Regions from separate parts of the Homo sapiens genome. Here regions 1 and 3 are each linked to region 2. The links come from fine-mapping of genetic effects on gene expression. A gene starts in region 2. Each other region holds a variant in brackets. All regions are shown on one strand. Distances are from middle to middle. Region 1 overlaps NVL (nuclear VCP like). Region 2 holds the start of NVL (nuclear VCP like). Region 3 holds the start of MIR320B2 (microRNA 320b-2).

The links. PIP is the estimated chance that this variant, and not a neighbour inherited with it, causes the effect.
Region 1: its variant is the best candidate, but not a certain one, in a credible set for the expression of NVL in B cells (Schmiedel 2018, PIP 0.74).
Region 3: its variant is the best candidate, but not a certain one, in a credible set for the expression of NVL in transverse colon (GTEx, PIP 0.73).

Annotation. Positions count from the first base shown.
Region 1 is chr1:224,234,418-224,242,606 of GRCh38, reverse strand. It overlaps NVL (nuclear VCP like), which reads left to right. Exons shown (of 23, transcript NM_002533.4): 20 at 6,025-6,101. Among named protein-coding and RNA genes, the nearest start is that of MIR320B2, 19 kb to the left of the region's middle. The variant TTTTTTTGAA/A (reference allele first, on the strand shown) is at 4,639.
Region 2 is chr1:224,326,338-224,334,526 of GRCh38, reverse strand. NVL (nuclear VCP like) reads left to right here and starts at 4,355. Exons shown (of 23, transcript NM_002533.4): 1 at 4,355-4,456; 2 at 8,063-8,136. The coding sequence starts at 4,400. RefSeq lists enhancers at 186-480, 4,138-4,287, 4,308-4,357, 4,548-4,597, 4,648-4,787.
Region 3 is chr1:224,252,849-224,261,010 of GRCh38, reverse strand. All of the region lies in intron 18 of NVL (nuclear VCP like), which reads left to right. It overlaps MIR320B2 (microRNA 320b-2), which reads left to right and starts at 3,901; the gene lies at 3,901-3,971. RefSeq lists a silencer at 3,970-4,264 and an enhancer at 5,376-6,301. The variant A/G (reference allele first, on the strand shown) is at 4,937.

The DNA.
Region 1 (8,189 bases), 92 kb after region 2:
AGTCCCAGCTACTCGGAAGGCTGAGGCAGGAGAATCGCTTGAACCTAGTGAAGTGAGATCACGCCACTGCACAGCCTGGGCATAGAGTGAGACTCCGTCTCAAAAAAAAAAAAAAAAAAGAATAGATTTGTATGACCAAATGAAAATATTTGTTAAAATAAAAGTAGTAGCACATCTTGAATTACTTTTTGAACCTGAGTATTTCATAACATATAATGTTTAATACGAATTATAGGAAAATATCAGTGTAAATGAGCCATAACTTTTTTCAGATTTTAGTAAAATACTATAGATACATAACATAAAATTTACCATTTTAGCCATTTTTAAGTATATATTTCTGTGGCATTAAGTACATTCACATTGTTGTGCAACCATCACCACTACTCATCTCCAGAACTTTTGCATCTTCCCAAACTGAAACTCTGTCCCCATTAAACACAAACTGCCCATTCCTTCTTCCCTACCCCTGGCAACCACCATTCTACTTTCTGTCTCTATGCTTTGCCTATTCTAGGTACCTCATACAAGTAGAATCATACAATATTTGTGGGATATAACTTTTTTTTTTTTTGAGACGGAGTTTTGGTCTTGATGTCCAGGCTAGAGTGCAATGGCGTGGTCTTGGCTCACTGCAACCTCTGCCTCCCAGGTTCAAGTGATTCTCCTGCCTGAGCCTCCTAAGTAGCTGGGATTACAGGTGCCTGCCACCACACCTGTTTTTCTTTTTCTTTTTATTTTTTTTTTTTTGAGACGAGGTCTCACTCTTGTTCCCTAGGCTGGAGTGCAGTGGTTTGATCTCAGCTCACTGCAACCTCCTCTTCCCGGGTTCAAGCGATTCTCCTGCCTCAGTGTCCCAAGTAGCTGGGATTACAGGCAACTGCCACCACACCTGGCTAAGTTTTGTATTTTTAGTAGAGATGGTGTTTCACCATATTGGCCAGGCTAGTCTCAAACTCCTGACCTCAGGTGATCCACCCGCCTCGGCCTCCCAAAGTGCTGAGATTACAGGCATGAGCCACCACGCCTGGCCTATAATTTCCTTAAGAGACTATTTTCCTTCTTTTTCTAATAATTCCTTTAGCTTAGCTTTCTATAGTTACCAACCTATTTGAGATTTCCATTAGGGCCTTTATTAAAAAATAATATAATATTATCGTAATAGAGATAATGTCATAAAGAAAAACCAAATTAATTTAAGCTTCTAAATACTTCTAAATATCCTAGTACCATTTCAATAAATGATTTTCCAAAATCCTCATATTTTGTTTTATAAGCTCTTTATTATGCCATTTAAAATTTTTCTCTTTGCTCTCACTTGAGAATAAATAGAATTCATTTTAGTTCTTACTATAAGTCAGAAACATAACCACATTTCAATTAAAGAATAGTTAGATTTCAGTGATCCAAAGATTCCTTAGCCCTTATTTCTACTAATTAGAAAGTAATGTTGCTAATGAAACTTTTGGAGGTATCCTAGGTAGAGCACACCTCATGCCCTCAAAAAAAGGAGAGTTTGGCTGAGCGTGGTAGCTTGTGCCTGTAATCCCAGCACTTTGGGAGGCCAAGGTGGGTGGATCACCAGGTCAGGAGTTTGAGACCAGCCTGGCCAACATGGTGAAACCCATCTCTACTAAACATACAAAAAATTAGCCGGGTATGGTGGTGTACATCTGTAATCCCAGCTACTTGGGAAGCTGAGGCAGGAGAATCTCTTGAACCCGGGAGGCGGAGCTTGCAGTGAGCCGAGATCATGCCATCACACTCCAGCCTGGGCCACAGGGCGAGACTCTGTCTCAAAAAAAAAAAAAAAAAAAAAAAAAGGACAGTTTGTTACTTTCTTTCAAGTGAGGGTACTTGAAATTATTTCTTTTTCTAAAGGTTTAATCTTCTAAGAATTAGGAAACTTCTGAGAGTATCTAAACATATAACAGTGAATTCGTTTTGTGAAGTTCATACCCCACCTCATTTATTTATTGTGTTCCTTTATATACTGAGCTTTCTTTCACAAAAGATTTTTCTTAAACAAAGGATATGCTAAGAATAGGAAGCTGACAATTGCTCCCATTATGCAAATGTGAGGAAAATTCCTCCTCTGCTGGGCGCTGTGGCTCACGCCTGTAATCCCAGCACTTTGGGAGGCGGAGGCGGGCAGATCACAAGGTCAGGAGTTTGAGACCAGCCTGACCAACATGGTGAAACCCCGTCTCTACTAAAATACAAAAACTACCCAGCGTTGGCTGGGCACGGTGGCTCACGCCTGTAATCCTAGCACTTTGGGAGGCCAAGGTGGGTGGATCACCTGAGGTCAGAAGTTCAAGACCAGCCTGGACAACATGGTGAAACCCCATCTCTACTAAAAATACAAAAAATTAGCCAGGCGTGGTGGCGGGCAACTGTAATCCCAGCTACTTGGGGGGCTGAGGCAGGAGAATCGCTTGAACCTGAGGGGCGGAGGTTGCAGTGAGCTGAGATCGCACCACTGCACTCCAGCCTGGGCCTGTGACAGTGAGACTCCGTCTCAAAAAAAAAAAAAAAAAAAAAATTACCCAGCGTGGTAGCGCATGCCTGTAATCCCAGCTACTCGGGGCTGAGGCAGGAGAATCGCTTGAACCTGGGAGGCGTAAGTTGCAGTGAGCCGAGATTGCGTCACTGCACTCCAGCCTGGTGACACAGCGAGACAGAAAAAAGAAAAATTCCTCCTCTGGGTCCTCACAAAGAGAACACTAAGATGCGATGCACAATGTCTTTAACGGTATTTCTGACACAAACACAATAAGCCTCTTGGGACTGAGGCTTGTCATTTTCTTAATATAAACTGAGGGTATTACACAAAGCCAGTTCATTAAATACAATTTGATGAAGGTCCAAGAAATGCACTCTGAGGATGCACAGGACCTTGTGGAGGTCCAGCTTAACCCAAGGGTAGAATTTAGATATTGAGAAGTATAAAAGAATTGTCTTCTTATGATTCAGCTTTTGATTAAAACAGGGCACTGGATAGTTTGAGATTAGATTGTCTAACAGCACGCGGAGTGTCCTTAGGGAAGATCCGTACAGTTAATGTGACAGTGTGACAGTCGAGGTAAGTTGATAGGTTCTTAAAATCATAGAAAGCACCTAACAAGGGCTCCTACATAATGTGGCAGCCCCACCACCATAGCAAGAAAGTCTACGCTAGTCTTCATTTTAAGAAATCACTATTATATGTTCACTGATGCCCCCCTCCCCTCTCAAATATAGCACAAAATTATATATACTCATCTGGAAATAAGATACTTATCTATTAAGATACTTTAAAAAATTAAATAATAAAGATTAACAAAGTTCTATAAGGGCCATTCAGTTGCAAATTTGAACTTTAGAACTCAGGTTTTCTAATTCCTCGCCCAGTGTTACTTGCACTGTTTAGGTCTTTTTATTGAAGTATGATACACCTACAGAAAAGTGGTAAATGTAAAGTAGATTTAGAGATTCAAGAAAGAAATTAAAAAGTGGTAAATGTCCAGCTCCATGAATTGTTACAAAGTCTCCAGATCAAGAAAGAGAACACTCCAAGTCTAATTCATAGAACTATGAAGTACAATGGTGACTGCCAGAGGTTGGGAGGCGGGGGCAGGAAGAATGGGGAGTTAGTGTTTAATGGATGCATTGTTTTCTTTGGGAAGATAAAAGAGTTCTGGAGCCGGATAGGGGTGATACAACAATGTGGATGGACTTAATGCCACTGACCTGTACACAGAAAAATGGTTGAAATGGTCAGTTTTTTGTATGTTTTGCCACAATAAAATAGAACATTCCCACACCGACAAAAGCTGCCCTTCTACTTCCAGCCACTACCCACTTCTACCTGCCCCCAGGATTGACCACTATCCTGACTCGGTTGAAAATTGTTTACACTAAAAGATGCTTAGCAATCCTACATTCTGACCCTTTAGTTTTATTACTTAGAGAAAAAAGCACAAGATTGTTTGCCTAAGATCATAGTTTGTGTCCCAGGTCAAAATGGATTGAATGGGAAATTAACTGTTTCTTGAACCTGTGGTAGATAACATGTCCATTTTATTTAGTGATAGCAACTAACAGATGTATAATTTATGCAGTTCTTGAACATGCCCTGCTGGGAGGCAGTGAGACGCTGGTATGTGAGTGTGGGCAGAGCAACAGGTAACTAGTGCACAAGGCCGGCAGCTCCAGTCCTCTCAGCCAGGTCGCCGAACCCTGTGCCTGGAGCACTTTGCCAGGCTGACGTTTTACACTAAGAAAAGCTTACTGGGCAGGTGCTGTGGCCCTCACCTGTAATCTCAGCACTTCGGGTGGCCAAGGCGGGCAGATCGCTTGAGCTGAGGAGTTTGAGATCAGCCTGGGCAACATCGTGAAACCCCATCTCTACAAAAAATACAAAAATTAGCCAGGTGTGTGGTGGGTGCCTATAGTCCCAGCTACCCAAGAGGCTGAGGTGGGAGGATGGCTTGAGCCCGGGAGGTGGAGGTTGCAGTAAGCTGAGATTGCGCCATTGCACTAAGCCTGGATGACAGAGCCAGACCCTGTCTCAAAGAAAAAAAAAGAAAAGAGAAAAGCTTAATGGCTTGTGTTTATTCACTTTTGTGTGTGTTTCTTCTTTTTTTTTTTTTTTTT[TTTTTTTGAA/A]ACCAAGTCTCCAACTCTCCAACTGTCACCCAGGCTGGAGTGCAATGGTGCGATCATGGCTTACTACAGCCTCCACCTCCCGGGTTCCAGTGATTCTCCTGCCTCAGTGTCCCGAGTAGCTGGGATTACAGGCACACGCCACCCCATCGCTCCTAGGAGACAGAGGTTGCAGTGAGCCAAGATCGCACCACTGCACTCCAGAGCGAGACTGTCTCAAAAAAAAAAAAAAGTAGCCAGGCATGGTGGCATGTAGTTCCAGCTCCTCGGGAGGCTGAGGTAGAAGGATCTCTTGTGCCGAGGAGGTCAAGTCTGTTGTGGTTGTTCCACTCACTCCTGCCTGGGCGACAGAGCAATACCCTGGAGGGAAGAAAAAGCTTGTTTTGTTTGCCTCTGCAGTTTGTCACTAAAAATATTATTAAACATAATGTATGCATGCAAGTTACTGGGTTAAGTGTTAAAATTCTGGGTTGGTTTTTTTTCCTCTACATCCAGTCTCATGAGAAATTCTAAGAGTTCTAAGTTACATACTTGTCATTGCTAATGTGTCTTGAAATGAGCTGAAGGGGAATTGGCACCAAAATCAAGATTGAGTGTTAGCTAAATGATTAAGAAAGAATATACTGAGCTTAGAGTGCTTTGTGCTTTTATTTTAGAGCAGATACTGCTCCTTCTCTCCTGGCCAGGTTCAGTATTATTTCTTCCGTCCTAGCCAGCCTCACACCAACACTAAGCATTGCTTAAGTATTTGCCATGTTTAAGCTGGAAAGGAAATGTGTTTCTTCACCTTTGGAAAGATCGAGGTGCTAGTTTTCATTCTTGTTGATGGTGTTTAGTATTTGCTGCAGCTGTACACAAATTCCTCAAACTTCATGAGCATAAATTGTTTGCCTTTAGCTTTCTCAAGTTTGGAATCTGCTTCTTAGCCTCATTTCTCAACATTGAAATTTGTATAAACCTTAACAGCACCAGTCTGGAAGTCAGTTATACTCATTTAGTCAAACAGCCATTATTAAGAACCTATTATGTAGATGAATATGGTCTTTATCTTTGAGACTCAGTCTCACTCTGTCGCCCAGGCTGGAGTGCAGTGGCATGATCTCTGCTCACTACAACCTCCACCTCCAGGGCTTGAGCAATTCTCGTGCCTCAGCCTCCCGAGTAGCTGGGACTACAGGTGCATACCATAACGCCCAGCTAATTTTTGTATTTGTAGTAGAGATGGGGTTTTACCATGTTCCACAGGTTGGTCTCGAACTCCTGACCTCAGGTGATCTGCCCACCTTGGCCTCCCAAAGTGCTGGGATTACAAGCATGAGCCATCGCACCCGGCATGGTCTTTAAAGCTCCAATGAAAAATCATTTTTCTCTCTTACTTAGAATGGTACCAAACCACCACTGGATGCAGATGTAAATTTGGAAGCAATTGCTGGTGACCTTCGCTGTGATTGCTATACGTAAGTGTTTAAATCTTAAGTCAATTCACTCTCTGGGGTTCAATTTCCTCATCTATAAAATGAGGGGTGATGATGCTCACCTCAGCAGATTGTTGGGAGGATTAAATGAGGTATCCCATGAAGCACATAAAGTGTCTGGCATCTCCCTTCTTAGAGAAGAGACTGCACATTTGGAGGCCCTGAAGGAATTCCTGGGAACAGGGGAGTCCTTTCATATGTTGACTCTTGGTACTTAACCTACCCTAACCAGCACTGCTGTCCTTTACAAATTGTACTGGTGCGTCAGCATTTAAAAGAGACTAATCTACAAGTGCCACATTTTGCAGCCCTCAGGATGCATTTTCACCTCCACATAGCCTGTAGTAACATCAGGAAATCTGACATTTCTGCCTTCATCCTTCCTATGTTTGTGTTGTTACAGTTATTAGTTTTTCTTCATATGTTTTGAAGTAAATTTGTTTGTTAACTTTCCCAATTTGGGGACACAGAGGGAGGAAATGAAACTCAAGTTTAACTAACAGAGACAATGCCCCCTCCGGCTTTTTGTTTTCTTTTTTTTCTTTTTTTTTTTTCCATACAGGGTTTCCCTCTTTCACCCAGGCTGGAGTACAGTGGCATGATCATGGCTCACTGTAGCCTTGACTTCCTGGGCTCAAGCAATCCTCTGACCTCAGCCTCCTGGATAGCTGGGACTACAGGTGCATGCTACCATCCCCAGCTAATTTTTTTAAAAAATTTTTGTAGTTTTAGGGTCTCGCCATATTGCCCAGTCTTGTCATGAACTCCTGAGCTTAAGTAGTCCCTCATGCCTCAGCATCCCAAAGTGCTGGGATTACAGTGAGCCACCACACCCGGCCCTTTTTTTTTCTCTATTATGTCCTTCCAATGTAGCAGTGATTCTCAGTGAAGAGAAACTGATCAGAGTCTCAGGCAGGGGTGGTGAGGGGCAGATGTAAATGCCTCTACCTCCCCTTAAATAGGATGTGCCTCACCCCCTAATTAGGAATCAAATCCATACGAGTCTTTATTTAAATGATGTGGCCAGGCACAGTGGCTCACGCCTGTAATCCCAGCACTTTGGAGGCTGAGGTGGGCAGATCACTTGAGGTCAGAAATTTGAGACCAACCTGGCCAACATGGTGAAACCTTGTCTCTACTAAAACTACAAAAATTAGCCGGGCATGGTAGTGCACACCTGTAATCGCAGCTACTAGGGAGGCTGAGACAGGAAAATTGCTTGAACCCAGCGGGTGGAGGTTGCAGTGAGCTGAGATCGTGTCACTGCACTCCAGGCTGGGCAACAGAGCGACACTCCATCTCAAAAAATAAAAATAAATAAAATTAAAAATAAAGAAATGGCCTTATGCTTAGGAGACTACTACTTGAGTAGTTTACTGCTTTAAGGGTGGGAGCAGTGGCTCACACCTGTAATCCTAGCCCTTTGGGAGGCCAAGGCAGGCAGATTGTTTGAGGCCAGGAGTTCAAGACCAGCTTGGGCAACATAGTAAGACCCCATCTCTACAAAAAAAATAATAATAATACAGCTTTAAGTGCTCAAATCTGAAAAGATTTTCGGTGAGTAACAGGTGATTTTGGTGGCGGAACTTGCCCTGGGCTAAATCTTTTGGATATACCAAGTAGGCTATCAGTCTGTGAAGGGGTTAGGGCTAAAGTTGAATGGTGTACATTTTGGATTTTCATGCCACTATAATTACAGTTTGAGAGACACTACACCACTACAGTCTATAGCTATCTGCTTGTGTTAGTTAATGGTGTTTCCACCAATGTTAGATTTCATAGTATGGGAAGGAATGAATACCCCAGCAGGTATGTGATTATTAAATAATGTTATAACCCTAACATTTAGCCAACAAAACACCAGATTCAGTTAAAAATTTAAGCTCTGTGGGTCTTTACTTTTATATAGTATGTGTCTGAGGCAGGAGAATCACTCATACCCAGGACGCAGAGGTTGCGGTGAGCCAAGATCACACCACTGCACTCCAGCCTCGGTGACAGAGCAAGACTCCATCTCAAAAAAAAAAAAGTTATATAGTATGGGGATTATCAACATTATATAATAAGTTT
Region 2 (8,189 bases):
TTCATTTATCTGCCACTAGGTCCTTCCTACAATTCATAAGAATTATGGAAGCCACAATTCAAGATGAGATTTGAGTGGCGACATAGCCAAACCATATAACCCTGTCTCGAAAAAGAAAAGAAAAGAACATAACAGAACAGAACTCAGTCTCCAGCTCCCAGCAAGCAGGAAGCCTCATTTTTGCATCTCAGTAAGGATCCTCTGACATGCAAACTTCATCTTTTTCTCCATGTTCCTACTATACATAGAGTGGTCATACATTGTCCAAACTAGAACCTTTTTGAGAGATAAAAGGAAGACACTGAACATGTGAATGAAAAATGGCCAGACCAAATGCAAAAATAGAACTCTGACTCACAATCTGCAGCAACCAGACCAGAAAACCAATATATCATCTACAAGTCAGACATGTAGGAAGTTAGATCACTATCACTAGCAAACAATCCAGGAACCCAGCAACAACCCCTGTAACAAACGGCCCCAGATGGCAAAAACTTTATTAATAAATGATAGCTTTTCTAATTTTTGGACCTGCTGTCAACATAGGACCAAAAAGAAAACCAACTGTGCATCCCAACCAAACACATAGGATGCTCTGCTAGTTCTATTTAGCCCACCTATAGCTTCCCTATGACAACAGTCTTCAGTTAGGGCGTACCTGAAGCCTTCCCCTATTCCCCACCATAAAGTTTTCCCACTCCTCTGCCTGTCTTTGAGGCTCTGCCAAAACACAAGTGATGGTGGCTGACTCCCTTGTTATAGCAAACTCTGAACAAATAGTCTTCACCTCTTCTTATGTATTTGGTCTTCATGTATTTCCACAAAGGGGATACTAGCAATAATTTTGCTGAATCAAAAATCAGGACTGTCCTGAGCAAATCTGGACATAAATCACCCTAGTTATGAAGCACAATTAGACCAGAAGCTGTTTGCTTGTGAAATACTGTATGAGGTTTAGGAGAAAGTGTGAAAGACAAAAGATAAAATACGCCACTACCACTAGGTGGGGTTACACCACCAAAGAATGGAGGATGCTTCAATTAAAAAAGGAAGTGCTTAAAGTGTATATGCACTTAGGTTACTGTTCAGTAATCTTTTTGGTTTTGATGCATGATATTGTAAATCCAAACATTGGAATCAATGTAAAATGGTCTTCAGGGCAATAATTGATGAAATAATTCCAACGAGAAATGTTCAAGCATATTATCATCTAGTATTAATTCACTTTCAATTATTGCCTTCTGCACCTGAAGCAGTAGTGAGATGAACAACACATTCCCTGCCTTTAAGAAGGAGGTGGCTGGGTGCAGTGGCTCATGCCTGTAATCCCAGCACTTTGAGAGGCCGAGACAGGCGAATCACGAGGTCAGGAGTTCAAGACGAGCCTGGCCAATATGGTGAAACCCTGTCTCTACTAAAAATACAAAAATTAGCTGGGCATGGTGGCATGCACCTGGAGTCCCAGCTACTTGGGAGGCTGAGGCAGAAGAATCGCTTGAACCCGGGAGGCGGAGGTTACAGTGAGCCAAGATCGTACCACTGCACTCTAGCCTGGCAATATAGTGAGACTCCACCTAAAAAAAAAAAGAAGAAAAAGAAGAAGAAGGCAGCATTCTAGAGTACTTCAAGTTTACATATGAATGGCTGGTTACATAATTTGTAAGACCCAGTGCAAAATGAAAATAAGGGACAGCTTATTCAGAAAGCATTTCAAGATGGCAACAGTACAGCATTAAACCACCTGTGGGGCCCTTCTGAGCACAGGGCCCTGTGTGACTGCAGAGGTCACATACCCATGAAGTCAACCCTAAGTGTAGGATAGTATTCTATGACAAATTATAGACTAATAAACTATATTGCCTAGTACATGTCATGATACTACTAGGCCTTTCAATGTGGTTGTTTATTTGTTCGTTTTTTTGAGATGGAGTTTTGCTCTTGTTGCCCAGGCTAGAGTGCAATGGCGCAATCTCAGCTCACTGCAACCTCTGCCTCCCAGGTTCAAGTGATTCTCCTGCCTCAGCCTCCCAAGTAGCTAGGATTACAGGCATGGGCCACCACACCCGGATAATTTTGTATTTTTAATAGAGACAGGGTTTCACCACATTGGTCAGGCTAGTCTTGAACTCCTGACCTCAGGTGATCCACCTGCCTCTGCCTCCCAAAGTGCTGGTAGTATAGGCATGAGCCACCATGCCTGGCCTCAGTGTGTTTTCATTCTATGTTGGACATTTGGCATGCACAGAATTACATTTCATTTTAAAAATTACTGAGCATTGACTACATTTGTACTATATGCTGTAGGGAATCTTTGCTAACATTTAATCAAGCACATAAATACCTAATCAAATTTTTTAAATGTTATAAAAAGTTAGTTATAATTCTTCCACTTTTCCCCACAAGCCTAAAGCGCAGAGCAGAGACTGAAACTGGTAGGCACTCAATAAACACTTGTTGAATGAATGCAAGAAGGCTGGAAAGTCCAATATCAAGGAGTTGTTATTTGGTGAGGGCCTTCTTGCTGTGTCATCCCATGGCAAAAGGCAGAATGGCAACAAAAGAGCCAAATTTTATTCAGCCTTAAAAGTGAAGGAAAGGCCAGGTGCGGTGGCTTATACCTGTAATCCCAGCACTTTGGGAGGCCAAGGCAGGTGGATCACCTCAGGTCAGGAGTTGGAGATCAGCCTGGCCAACATGGCAAAACGCCATTTCTACTAAAAATACAAAAAATTAGCCGGGTGTGGTGGTACACACCTGTAGTCCCAACTACTTGGGAGGCTGAGGTGGTAGAATCTCTTGAACCCAGGAGGCGAAGGTTGCAGTGAGCTGAGATTGCGCCACTGCACTCCAGCCTGGGCAACAGAGCAAGACTCTGTATCAAAAAAAAAAAAAAAAAAAAAAGAAAAGAAAGAAGGAAATTCTAACACATGCTATATGAGGGCATTAAGCTAAGAAACAAGCCAGTCACAAAAGTCAAATACTGGAAGATTCCACTTATATGAGGAAGTTAGTGTAGTCAAAATCATAAAGACAGTAAGTAGAATGGTAGTTGCCAGGGGCTGGGGGGAGGGAGGAATGGGGAGTTATTTTTTAATTAGTATAGAGTTTTAGTTGTACAAGATGAAAAGAGTTCTGGAACTAGATGGCAGTGATGGTTGCATATTATGAATGTATTATCACTAAACTGCACACTTTAAAATGTTTAAGATGGTGAATGTTCTTATATTTTACAACTAAAAAAATAAAAAATAAAACTACACATAGTGAAGAAGTAGGAAATGAAGTTGCAACCAAACGGATCAATATTTTGAGTGGGAAATCTAATACTTAATTCAGTGCTAATTTTTATATTTTTAGTAGAGACAAGGTTTCACCATGTTGGCCAGGCTGGTCGTGAACTCCTGACCTCAAGTGATCTGCCCGCCTCGGCCTCCCAAAGTGCTGGGATTACAGGTGTGAGCCACCGTGCCCGGCCTCACGCCCTTCTCTTAATTCCATTTTCTCTCCCCTCTGCCCCTTAATACACTGCACTTAACCTTGTCATAAGCCAAGGAGGACCTGAAATAAGAATACTCAAAACACGGTTGAAATAAACAAGAAGACAGAAACTAAAGCCAGCATTTTTTTTTTAATGCTTGGTAACTGTCCCTTTGTGTCTCCCTAAGTGCAGGATAAACTTCTTGGGGCAAATACAAACGTTTGATAAAATTCTGGGCCAAGGAGTCCTGCACTGGATATATTCAACAAATTACCTGCCGATGATAACAGCGTAAGTCAAACGAGTTCTAAAAGTAACAAATGACTTAGTTATCTGGATAAATCCGTCCTTCCTTTTCTTTTTCACCTAGCCCTTTTGTCGGGCCTCTAAAATGTAAGATAACTACGTGGGAAAGCAAGCAGCGGCTGGTGGTGTGTTTTTACCCTGATTTTATCACTCCAAGTATCTACCGTGGCTGGTTTTGCGAAGACTAGCTTTGTATCAGAATGAGGTGTGGCTGGAACGCCTGAGGAAAGCAAACCAAGTTTTCCAGAGGACGCCGTTGACAGCGTCTCCGCACACCGCGCCGGGGTAGGAACTTCCTCCCACCTGGTTCGCCCGGCGGGGAACCAATAAAGTTGAGCGCGTTCAAAGGGGTCCTAATCTTCCAGGGTCCACTGGGCAGGCCTGCAAAATAAGGCCCCTAGAAACTCCCTGAGGTTTTCAAGTCTTCTCCCTCTCCTCGGAATTTTTTCCCCTTCATTCGCATTACTTTTATTCTGACGGAAACGGCGCGGGCTAGGCCCCAGGAGGGGCGCATTTCAGGTGCAACTGGCCCGGCGATCGCGGCGGGCAACCCCTACGAGGCCCCCGGTTGACTAGGAGCTGGCGGTCCGAGCTGTGGCTTGGAAGACCGACGCGATGAAGCCCAGACCTGCAGGGTTCGTGGATAATAAACTCAAGCAGCGAGTCATCCAGGTGTGTATTCTGCACCGCTTGGCCTCGCCAAGGGCCCCGATCGCTGCCCCAGGGTGCCACTCCCCTTTTGTCGGGTGGCATCCAGGTGGAACTCAACTAGTCTTCTTTCCCCAGTCTGGGTCTGGGCGTGCGTCTGTTTCTCCTTAGTTGGTGCTGCCGGGGCCTTCCCTACCCACGTTGGTGCGGAGTCTCAGGGAGAAGCCGGGGATGGTGGGAGGGTGCAGCTTGGTAGGGCTGCCCAAGTTGTCTGGTCGTCTTCAGCGCAGATCATTCAGTAGAGTGGAGGTAGCCTTTGAATTTTAACCTCTTTGGCTTGTGAAGTTAGCACAGGAATGGTCTTCAAACGCTCGCATTGTAAGAGGTCCTTGAGAAGGGGTGGCATAAATAATATGTTAATTTCCGTTCTCAAGGAACTTACACACTAAAACGAGATAACATGGGTCTGGCAACAGTAACAGGCACTTTGCCTACGGTTTTCTCATTTTCATGACCATCAGTAAAAAGCAGTGTGTGGCAAATACCTCAGAATGTAAGCAAGCAGTCTGAGTTAAAAGGTGGGAGAGAATTTTCTTCACTTAGGAATTTGTGAGCTACACATTCTCCTTGTTTTTCTTTCACTTCACCAGCCCCTAAACAATCTCCTTTTCGGACCCATCTTTTCCTACCAACTTGTAAATGTTGGAAGTGCTCTGTGCCACTGTTCTCTTACCTCCCCTTCCTCCTCTTTCCTCATACACCTTTCTTATCTATCCATACTTCCTATGTGATCTCATTTAGTGTAATAACCTTTGAGTAGTATCTACATACTCTATTATCTATGTATTTATTTCATTTTATTTTTATTTTTCTGAGACATAGTCTCGCTCTGTTGCCCAGGCTAGAGTGCAGTGGCTGTTTATGGGCACAATCATAACTCACTGCACCCTCGGCCTCCCTGACTCAAGTGATCCTCCCTCCTCAGCCTCCCCAGTAGCTGGGACTACAGGTGTGCACCACCACACCTGGCTAATTTATTATTATTATTATTATTTGTAGAGACGGGGTTCCACTATGTTACTCTGGCTGGTCTCTAACTCCTGGGCTCAAGCGATCGGGCCTCAGCCTCCCAAAGTGCTGGGATTACCGGTGCAAGCTGCTGCACTGGCCTCTGTATATTTATGACTGCTAACTTTATATCTCCAGTCCAGATTTTATCTTGAAGTACAGATTGATATATCCAGCTGCCTAGTCAGCATATCTCCAAATTAAAATGGCCAAGTGGAATTTGTGATTTTTTTCTTCCTTCAAATCTGCCCTTTCTTAGTGTTCTGTATCTCAGTAAATGATACTACCGTTCGTCCTGTTGTTAAGGCCAAAAACCTTAAGGATCATTCTGAGTCTTTCATTTCCTGTATACCATCTGTCAACAGCCTGGTTGGCTTTACTTTCAAAATATATTCCAAGTACTTCTTACTGTCTTTCCCTGTAACCATCTTAGTCCAAACCATCATCTCTACCTTATACTATTACAATAGCCTCCTAACTGATCTCTCTGATTCTGCTTTTACCTAAAGCCTATTCCCCACAGAGCAGCCAGAGACATCTAATTTTTTTTTTTTTTTCTGCTCACTGCAACCTCTGCCTCCTGGGTTCAAGTGATTCTCCTGCCTCAGCCTCCCGAGTACGTGGGATTACAAGTGCATGCCATCACGCCTGGCTACTTTTTGTATTTTTAGTAGGGATGGGATTTCACCATGTTGGCCAGGCTAGTCTCGAACTCCTGACCTCAGGTGATCTGCCCGCCTCAGCCTCCCAAAGTGCTGGGATTACAGGCGTGGCCAAGACATCCTTTTAAAGGGAAAAATCGGGCTAGGGGAGGGATAGCATTAGGAAAAATACCTAATGTAGATGACGGGTTGATGGGTGCAGGAAACCACCATGGCACCTGTATACCTATGTAACAAACCCGCATGTTCTGCACATGTATCCCAGAACTTAAAGTATAACTAAAAAAAAGGGGGGGGAAATCAGAGCTTGCCATAGCCCTGCTCAAAACCTTTCAGTGGAGTCACAGACATCTAGAGTAAAACCCAGTCTGAAAAGCCCTGCATATTCTGGCCTCTGTTGTCCTAGTTTACTTTTCCTCTCCTGTCCCAGCCACACAGACCTTCTCAAACATGCCAAGCACAGGACCTTTGTTCTCGTTGTTCAGTCACTCTGAATTACTCTTCCTCTGGATGTTCCCGCGTCCCACAACTTGCTCCTTCACTTTATTGAGGTTTCTGAGCAGTGACTCCTAATTACTGGATCTAGTGGCCTCTTCTCTGTCCTCACACTTGACTCTTTTCAGCGTTTGACATTATCAGTTTTCCTCTATAGCTTTCACTTTGGTTCATTATAAAAGTACAAATGAATATCCCTTATTCTAAATGCTTAAGACCAAAAAATGTTTCAGATTGATTTTTTTCAGGTTTTGGAATGTTTGCATATACATAATGAGATATTTGGGGATGGGACCCAAGTTAAACATGAAGTTTATTTATGTTTCATATACACCTTACACACATAGCCTGAAGATAGTCTTACACAATATTTTAAATAAATTTTCACTTAGCTATATATTTAATTTAATTTTAATTTTTTATTTTTGAGACTGGGTCTAGCTCTGTCACCCAGGCTGGAGTGCAGTGGTGTGAACACTGCTCACTGCCATCTCAAACTCGTGGGGTCAAGTGATTCTCCCACCTCAGCCTCCCATGTAGCTGGGACCACAGGTATGCACCACCATGTCTGGCTAATTTTAAAATTTTTTGTAGAGATGAGATCTTACCACCTTGCCCAGGCTGGTCTCGAACACCTGGACTGAAGCAATCCTCCCGCCTTGGCCTCTCAAAGTGCTGGGATTACGGGTGTGAGCCACCACGCCCGGGCTTATTTATGTATTTATTTTTGAGATAAGGTCTCGTTCTGTTATCCAGGCTGGAGTGCAGTGGCTCGATCATAGCTCACTGCAACCTCTAAGTCTGGGCTTAAGCGATCTCCCACCTTGGCCTCCCAAAATGCTGGGAGTATAAGCACAAGCCACCACATCCAACCAACTTTTTAATTTTTTTGTAGAGATGAGGTCAAACTTTGTTGCCCAGGGTGGTCTCAAACTCCTGGGCTCCCAAAGTGTTGGGATTACAGATATGAGCCACCATGCCCAGCCAAAAGGTGATTTAATATTGAAACTAAATTGCCTCAAGCTAGTAGTTCTGCAGTATCTGACAGATGTCAAATATCACTGTGTTCCTTGAAGTTTAAAATATCCCCTCCTACCCTTATGAGTTTACTGCAGTGTTCTGGGGTGTTTGGAAACCTAGGATATTAGTAAGTAAGCCCTCACTTACTGCCTTATAACTATTCTGATAATTATTAGTATTGTATTATAGTGATTAATAATGTTAATTAAATTTTCTGATTTCATATTTGACAATTATTTGGTTACTTTTATTTATGTTTCTGGTACACTTTATTAACGAAGAGTTTATCTTAAAGTATAATGTGTTCAGATAGCTCAATCTGTTGATTAAAATCACTGAGTTTGAAATATTGGGTGTTTTGTATTTGTTATATTTTCTGTTTTAGTACCTTACCAGTAACAAATGTGGCAAATATGTGGACATTGGAGTCTTAGCGTCTGATTTACAAAGAGTGTACAGGTAAATAAATATAGTTTCCGGATCCTTGGATTTTTATGTCTCCTTTACCATTT
Region 3 (8,162 bases), 74 kb after region 2:
CCAGCTACTCGGGAGGCTGAGGCAGAAGAATCGCTTGAACTCAGGAGGCAGAGGTTGCAGTGAGCCGAGATCACGCCACTGCACTCCAGCCTGGGTGACAGAGCAAGACTCTGTCTCAAAAAATATAAAATAAAAATAAAAATTAGCCAGATGCACTGGTGTGTACCTGTAATCCCAGCTACTTGGGAAGCTGAGGCAGGAGGATCACTTGAAACTAGAAGTTTGAGGCCACAGTGAGCTATGATTGCACCACTGCACTCCAGCCTGGATGACAGAGCAAGACCCTGTCTCAAAAAAAAAAAAAAAAAAAAGGAAAAGAAGAAATAAATAAGCAAATTATGATTAGATGTGCAAGCTTCTGCAGGGCAGGGATTCATTCTGCACTTTTATATCTGAGAGATAGGTTCTAGTTAGAGGCTCTGCCCATTCTAAGCGTTTAATAATTATCAGATGAAGGCTGGGTGTGTTGGCTCATGCCTGTAATCCCAGCACTTTGGAAGGCTGAGGCAGACACATCACGAGGTTAGGAGATCGAGACTATCCTGGCCAACATGGTGAAACCCGTCTCTACTGAAAATACAAAAATTAGCTGGCCATGGTGGCGCGTGCCTGTAGTCCCAGCTACTCAGGAGACTGAGGCAGGAGAATCGCTGGAACTCGGGAGGTGGAGGTTGTAGTGATCGCGCCACTGCACTTCAGCCTGGTGACAGAGCAAGACTCCGTCTCAAAAAATAATAGTAATTATCAGATGAAAGAGTGGATGACTCACAGAGAAGGTATTTATTTCATTGTACTAAGATATTTACCACTGAAGTTCCAAGCTAAATAGAGTGTTTCCTTACACATCTAGTCTGGATGCTTTGGGTCATTGTTGAATGCATTTGAAGGTAATTGAACAATGACTTGGTGCCATGGTCAACCCTGTATGTTTTGCCCTTTGGCACAGTACTGCCCTTTTAAAATTAGGTTATGCCCAGCCAGAACTTTGGCTGAGTTATAGATGCTATGATATGTAGTAGAGCTCAATAATTATTTGTTTACGGCTGGATGCGATGGCTCATGCCTGTAATCCCAGCGCTTTGGGAGGCTGAGGTGAGCAGATCACTTGAGGCCAGGAGTTTGAGACCAACCTGGGTTAACGTGGCAAAAATCTCGTCTCTACTAAAAATACAAAAAAAAAAAAAAAAAGTTAGCTGGGTATGGTGGCACACACCTGTAATCCCAGCTACTTGGGAGGCTGAGGCACAAGAATTGCTTGAACCTGGAAAGTGAAAGTTGTAATGAGCGGAGATTGTGCCACTGCACTCCAGCTTGGGCAACAGAAGGAGACTCTGTCTCAAAACAAACAAACAAAAAACATCATTCTTATTATTATTATTTGTTTAATGAATCATGAGTAGAAACCTATTTCATGAAGGTTGTCTGATCTTGTAATTATTTTCAATGGATATATTTATAGTGTTGCTAGTCTGAGGATTCATTTTTTTAAAAAGCTTTACTGAGATGTAAGTGGCATATCGTAAAATTTACCCATTTTAAGTATATCATTCAATGGTTTTGAGTATATTTACATAGCTTTACAGCCATCCCAACAATCTAATCTTAGAATATTTGCATCACCTGGGCCATGTGTGGCTCATGCCTGTAATCCCAGCACTTTGGGAGGCTGAGGCGAGTGGACCACTTGAGGCCAGGAGTTTGAGACCAGCCTGGCCAACACAGTGAAGCCTCGTCTCTACCAAAAACATACAAAATTTAGCAGGGCATGGTGGTGCGCACCTAGAGTCCCAGCTACTTAGGAGGCTGAGGCAGGAGAATCGCTTGAACCTAGAAGGCAGAGGTTGCAGTGAGCCGAGATTGTGCCACTACACTCCAGCTTGGGCAACAGAGTGAGACCCTATCTCAAAAAAAAAAAAATGTTCATCACCCTTAAAAAATCTCATGCCTGTTAGCATTCAGTTTTCCTTTTCTCATCTCCAGCCTTAGGCAACCACTAATCTACTTTCCTTTTTTTTTTTTTTTTTTTTTTTTAATGTAGAGACAGGGTCTCATGTTAACCAGGTTGGTCTCGCACTCCTGGCCTGCAGCATGCCCCCTGCCTTGGCCTCTCAAAGTACTGAGGTTTTAGGCATGTGTCGCTACTGGCCATCATCTACTTTCTGTCTATATAAATTTGTCTATTCTGGATATTTTATGTAAATAGCATTATACAATATGAGGGCTCTTAAATCTGGCTTCTTTAGCATAATGTTTTCAAGATTTATTCATATTATAGAATGTATCAATACTCCATTCCTTTTTATTATGAAATAATATCCCGTTGTATGGATATACCACATTTTGTGTATTCACCAGTTGGACATCTGGGCTGTTTCTGTTTTTTGGCTATTATGAATAATGCTGCTATGAACATTCATGTATGCATTTTTGTATGGACATATGTTTTAATTTCTCCTGGGTCTATACCTAGGAGTGGAATTGCTGGATCATATGGTAACTCCCTGTTTAACATTTTGAGAAACTGCTAAACTCTTTTCCAAAGTGGCTGCATCATTTTTATATTCCCACTAGTAATTTTGACATTAAAATATATGACAGTTCTGATTTATTCACATTCTTACTAATACCTGTTATTGTCTTTTTTTATTATAGTTATTCTAGTGGATGTGAGGTGGTATTTCATTCTGATTTGATTTGCATTTCCCTGATAACTGATAGTGTTGAGCATCTTTTATTGTGCTTGTTGGTCATTTGTATGTCTTCTTTGGAGATATGTCTGGTCATTTTTCAATTAGGTTATTTGCCTTGTCATTGAGTAGTAAGAGTTCTTTGTTCTAGATACAAATCTAAAATCAGATATGTGATCTACATATGTTTTCACCAATCTGTGGGTTGTCTATTCACTTTTTTGATGTCATTTGAAACACAAGTTTTTAATTTTGATAAATTCCAATTTATGTGTTTGTCTTTTACCGCTTGCAATTTTGATGGTGTTATCAATGGTGTAAAAATCATTGCCTAACCGAAGGTCACTAAAATTAACTCCTGCATTTTCTTCTCATAAAATTTTAGCTCTTACATTTAGGTCTTTGATCCATTTTGAGTTAATTTGTTGCGTGTTGTGAGGAAAGTGTGCAAATTGATTCTTTTGAGTGTCAATATCCCTTGTCGGGCCCAGTGCAGTGACTCATGCCTGTAATCCCAGCACTTTGGGAGGCCAACATGGGAGGATTGTTTGAGCTCAGGAGTTCAAGACCAGCCTGGGCAACATAGTGAGACCTCATCTCTACAAAAAATACACAAAAACAAAACAAAATTAAATGGGCATGGTGGTGCATGCCTGTAGTCTTAGCTACTTGGGAGGCTATGGCGGGAGGATTGCTTGAGTCCCGGAGATCAAGGCTGCAGTGAGCTATGATACACCACTGCACTCCAGCCTGCGCTACAGAGTGAGACCCTGTCTCCAAAAAAAGAAACAAACAAACAAACAAACAGACAAACAAAAAACCACTTGTCCTAGCACCTTTGTTGCAAAGATTAATTAGTCCCCCATTGAATTGTCTTGTTACCTTTGTTAAAAATTGAGGGTCCATTTATAACAAAATAATGTTTTCCTAAAGTTAAAAGTTGCTACTGTTACCTCTCAATTTTAACTTTTTTTTTCTTTTTTAATTAATGTTTTTTACCCATGGCAAGCTGTAATAGCTTTTTTGAGGGGAGGTAGGTGCTTTATAAAGAACAGTAGGTGCTGCTTATCAACAGATGAAAGGAGGGTTCTTTTTCAGGCAACCATCTCATTTGTGAGTGAATGCACTTTCTCTTTAAAGTGCTGGGATTGTTAGTGCCATTTTTATTGTAAATATCAGAATTGTTATTTTTTGTCTTCTACCTAAGAATTCTGTCTCTTAGGCTTTCTCTTCCCAGATTTCCCAAAGTTGGGAAAAGCTGGGTTGAGAGGGCAAAAGGAAAAAAAAAGAATTCTGTCTCTGACATAATTAGATAGGGAACCAGTTGGGAAGCTGTAAGAATAATGCAGGTGCAAGGTGGTGGTGGTTTGAGCCGGGTGATAGCTGTGGATGTAGAAGGAATCTGAATATATTGTGTCATAGGGTTGACCTGATTTGCTAATGGAGTAGTTAAGGATGTGGGAAAGTGGAATCAAGCATGGCTCCAAGGTCTGGGCCTGAAAAACCGGGAGAATGAGTTCACATTAACTAAGACGGGAAAGACAATGGTAGGGGCCTGTTTAGGGAAGAGCTAGGAAGAGATTAGCATCTCATTTCTAATGATGTAATACATAGAATCTTGCAGGAGCCTTTAGTGAAGTGTAGTTTAAGTCATCTAATACTAAAATTTATATAAAGTGTCCAGAATGCCTTTTACTGTAAATAACTTATTAAAATAATAAACTGCATAATATTAAGTGTGATATTTGTCAGAGATGTTAAGTGATTATAGGACTCCCAAACTAAGAATGCTTTATAATTATCATCAGTATTCCCCTTTACCTTGGGGCATGTAGAACTGGCTTTAAGATGTGTTTTGTGGGGAGTTTTCTGTGGGTTTTTTTTTTTTTTTTTTTTTTTTAGATGGAGCCTCACCCTGTTGCCCAGGCTGGAGTGCAGTAGCACGATCTTGGCTCACTGCAACCTCCGCTTCCCAGGTTCAAGCGATTCTCCTGCCTTAGCCTCCCGAGTAGCTGGGATTGCAGGCATGCAACACCATGCTCAGCTAATTTTTTTATTTTCAGTAGTTATGGAGTTTCACCATGTTGGCCAAGCTGGTCTCGAACTCCTGACCTCAAGTGATCCACCCGCCTCAGCCTCCCAAAGTGCTGGGATTACAGGCATGAGCCACCATGCCTGGCATGTATTTATATGTTTAAATTAAAAGATGTTTCAACGGCATGGTAATTGGCATAGAGCTGAGACAGATA[A/G]ATAAAAGGAACAGAAAAAAAATCCAGAAATATTCCTATGCATATCTAGATAGTTGATGTATTTAAAAAGCACAAAGGCAATGCAGTGGAGAATGTATAGTCTTTTCAACAATGGTACTGGAGCAACTGAATATCCATATGCAAAAAGAAAAATTGAACCTTAATTCATACCTTTTACCACATACAAAAAATAACTCAAAATGAATCAAAGACCATTGAAAACAACATTATAAAACTCTTGGAAGAAAACACTGGAGAAATTTTTTTCTACCTTGAATTAAGCAAAGATTTCCTATATGATATTAAAAGCGTAAACCATAAAAGAGCAAATAGATAAACTGAACTGCTCTTCAAAAGTGCCAATAAGCCAGGTACAGTGGTACACGCCTGTAAACCCAGCTACTCAGGAGACTGAGGTGGGAGGATCCTTTGAGCTCAGCACTTCGAGGCCAGCCTGGGCAGTGTAGTGAGACCCAGTCTCTTACAAAAATGCAAATAAGAGAATATAAAGATAAACCACAGACTAGGAGAAAATATTTGCAAAGCATATATCTGATAAAGGATTAAAAACTACACCATTTTAGGCCAGGCGCGGTGGCTCACGCCTGTAATCCCAGCACTTTGGGAGGCCCAGGTGGGCGGATCACAAGGTCAGGAGATCGAGACCAACCTGGCTAACATGGTGAAACTCCGTCTCTACTAAAAATACAAAAGAAATTAGCTGAGCATGGTGGTGGGCACCTGTAAGTCCCAGCTACTCTGGAGGCTGAGGCAGGAGAATGGCGAGAACCAGGGAGGTGGAGCTTGCCGTGAGCCAAGATCGCACCACTGCATTCCAGCCTGGACGGCAGAGCGAGACCCTGTCTCAGGAAAAAAAAAAAAAAAAAAAAAACCTACACCATTTTGGGCCAGGCACATTGGCTCATGCCTGTAATCCCAGCACTTTGGGAACCGAGGCAGACGGATCATGAGGTCAGGAGATCGAGACCATCCTAGCCAACATGGTGAAATCCCGTCTCTACCAAAAATACAAAAAGTAGCTGAGTGTGGTGGTGCATGCCTGGAATCCCAGCTACTTGGGAGGCTGAGGCAGGAGAATCGCTTGAACCTGGGAGTTGAGGTTTCAGTGAGCCAAGGTCATGCCACTGTACTCCAGCCTGGCGACAGAGACTCCGTCTCAAAAAAAAAAAAAAAAAACTACACCATTTTAAAAGTAGCCAAAAGGTACTTGAAAATTGCCAAGAAAGTAGATTTTAAGTGATCTACCACAAAAAAAGTAATAAGAATATGAGGTAATGCCTGTGTCAGTTGTCTCAACTTGGCCATTCCACAATGTATACACATTTTAAAAACACATGTTGGCCAGGCACAGTGGCTCACGCCTGTAATCCCACCACTTTGGGAGGCCGAGATGAGCAGATCACCTGAGGTTGGGAGTTCGAGACCAGCCTGACCAACATGGAGAAACCCTGTTTCTACTAAAAATACAAAAAAAAAAAAAACAAAAAAAACAAATTAGCCGGGCATGGTGGTGCATGCCTGTAATCCCAGCTACTTGGGAGGCTGACGCAGGAGAATCACTTGAATCCAGGAGGTAGAGGTTGCGGTGAGCTGAGATTGCGCCATTGCACTCCAGCCTGGGCAACAAGAGCAAAACTCCATCTCAAAAAAAAAAAAAAAAAAATGCCAGGCACTGTGGCTCATGCCTGTAATCCTAGCACTTTGGGAGGCCAAGGCAGGTGGATCACGAGGTCAGGAGTTCGAGACCAGCCTGACCAATATGGTGAAACCCCGTCTCTACTAAAAATACAAAAGTTAGCCGGGCATGGTGGTGGTCACCTGTAATCCCAGCTGCTCAGGAGGCTGAGGCAGGAGAATGAACTTGAACCCGGGAGGCAGAGGTTGCAGTGAGCTGAGATCATGCCACTGCACTCCAGCCTGGGCGACAGAGTGAGACTCCATCTCAAAACAAAAAAAAACATGTTGTACAACCTAAATATATACCATTTTTCTTTGTCAGTTTACAAAATTATTTAATCAACTTTAAACATAAAAATGGCCAAAAGATTTGTACAGTTACTTCACCATAGGAGGTGTACAAATGGCAAACTCATGAAAAATGCTTCACACCATTAGTCACTAGGGAAATGCAAATTAAAGCCACAGTAAGCACTACAAACCTTAGAATAACTAAAAGATTGAAAAGACTGGCTGTGCCAAATGTTGGCAAGGATATGGAGGAACTGGAACTTTCATGCACTGATGATGGGAATGTAATGGTACAAGTAGTTTGGAAAACAGTTTGGCAATTTCTTTTTTTCTTTTCTTTTTTTTTTTTTTTTTGAGACCGAGCCTTGCTCTGTCCCAAGGCTGGAGTGCAGTGGCCTGATCTCGGCTCACTGCAACCTCCGCCTCCTGAGTTCAAGTGATTCTCCTGCCTCAGCCTCCTGAATAGCTGAGATTACAGGCATGTGCCACCACGCCTAGCTAATTTTTGTATTTTTAGTAGAGACGGGGTTTCACCATGTTGGCCAGGATGGTCTCAATCTCTTGACCTTGTGATCCTCCCGCCTCAGCCTCCCAAAGTGCTGGGATTACAGGCGTGAGCCACTCCACCCGGCCAGCAATTTCTTAAAAGTTAAGCATATACCTACAGTTTGATATGGCCATACTACTGGTATCTTACACTTAGGTAATTTACTGAAGAGAAATGAAAGCATATACAGCCTGGGAGCCGTGGCTCAGGCCTGTAATCCCAGCACTTCGGGAGGCTAAGGCGGGTGGATCATGAGGTCAGGAGCTCAAGACCAGCCTGGCCAAGATGGTGAAACCCTGTCTCTACTAAAAATAGAAAACTTAGCCGGGCGTGGGGGGCAGGGGGGCACACTTGTAATCTCAGCTACTTGGGAGGCTGATGCAGAGAACTGCTTGAACCCAGGAGGCAGAGGTTGCAATGAGCCGAGATCGCCCCACTGCACTCTAGCCTGGGTGACAGAGTGAGACTCTGTCATTAAAAAAAAAAGCATATACAAAGACTTGTACAAGAAAATTACTGACACATGAAACAACTTGGGTGAAACCCAAAATGATTATGTTGCATGAAAGAAAGCACAGTACATATTGTATAATTCCACTTACATAAAACTTTAGAAAATGCAAACTAATCTATAGTGCCAAAACAGATAGGTGGCTGCCTAAGGATAAAGGAGAGCAGGTAAGGGCAGGA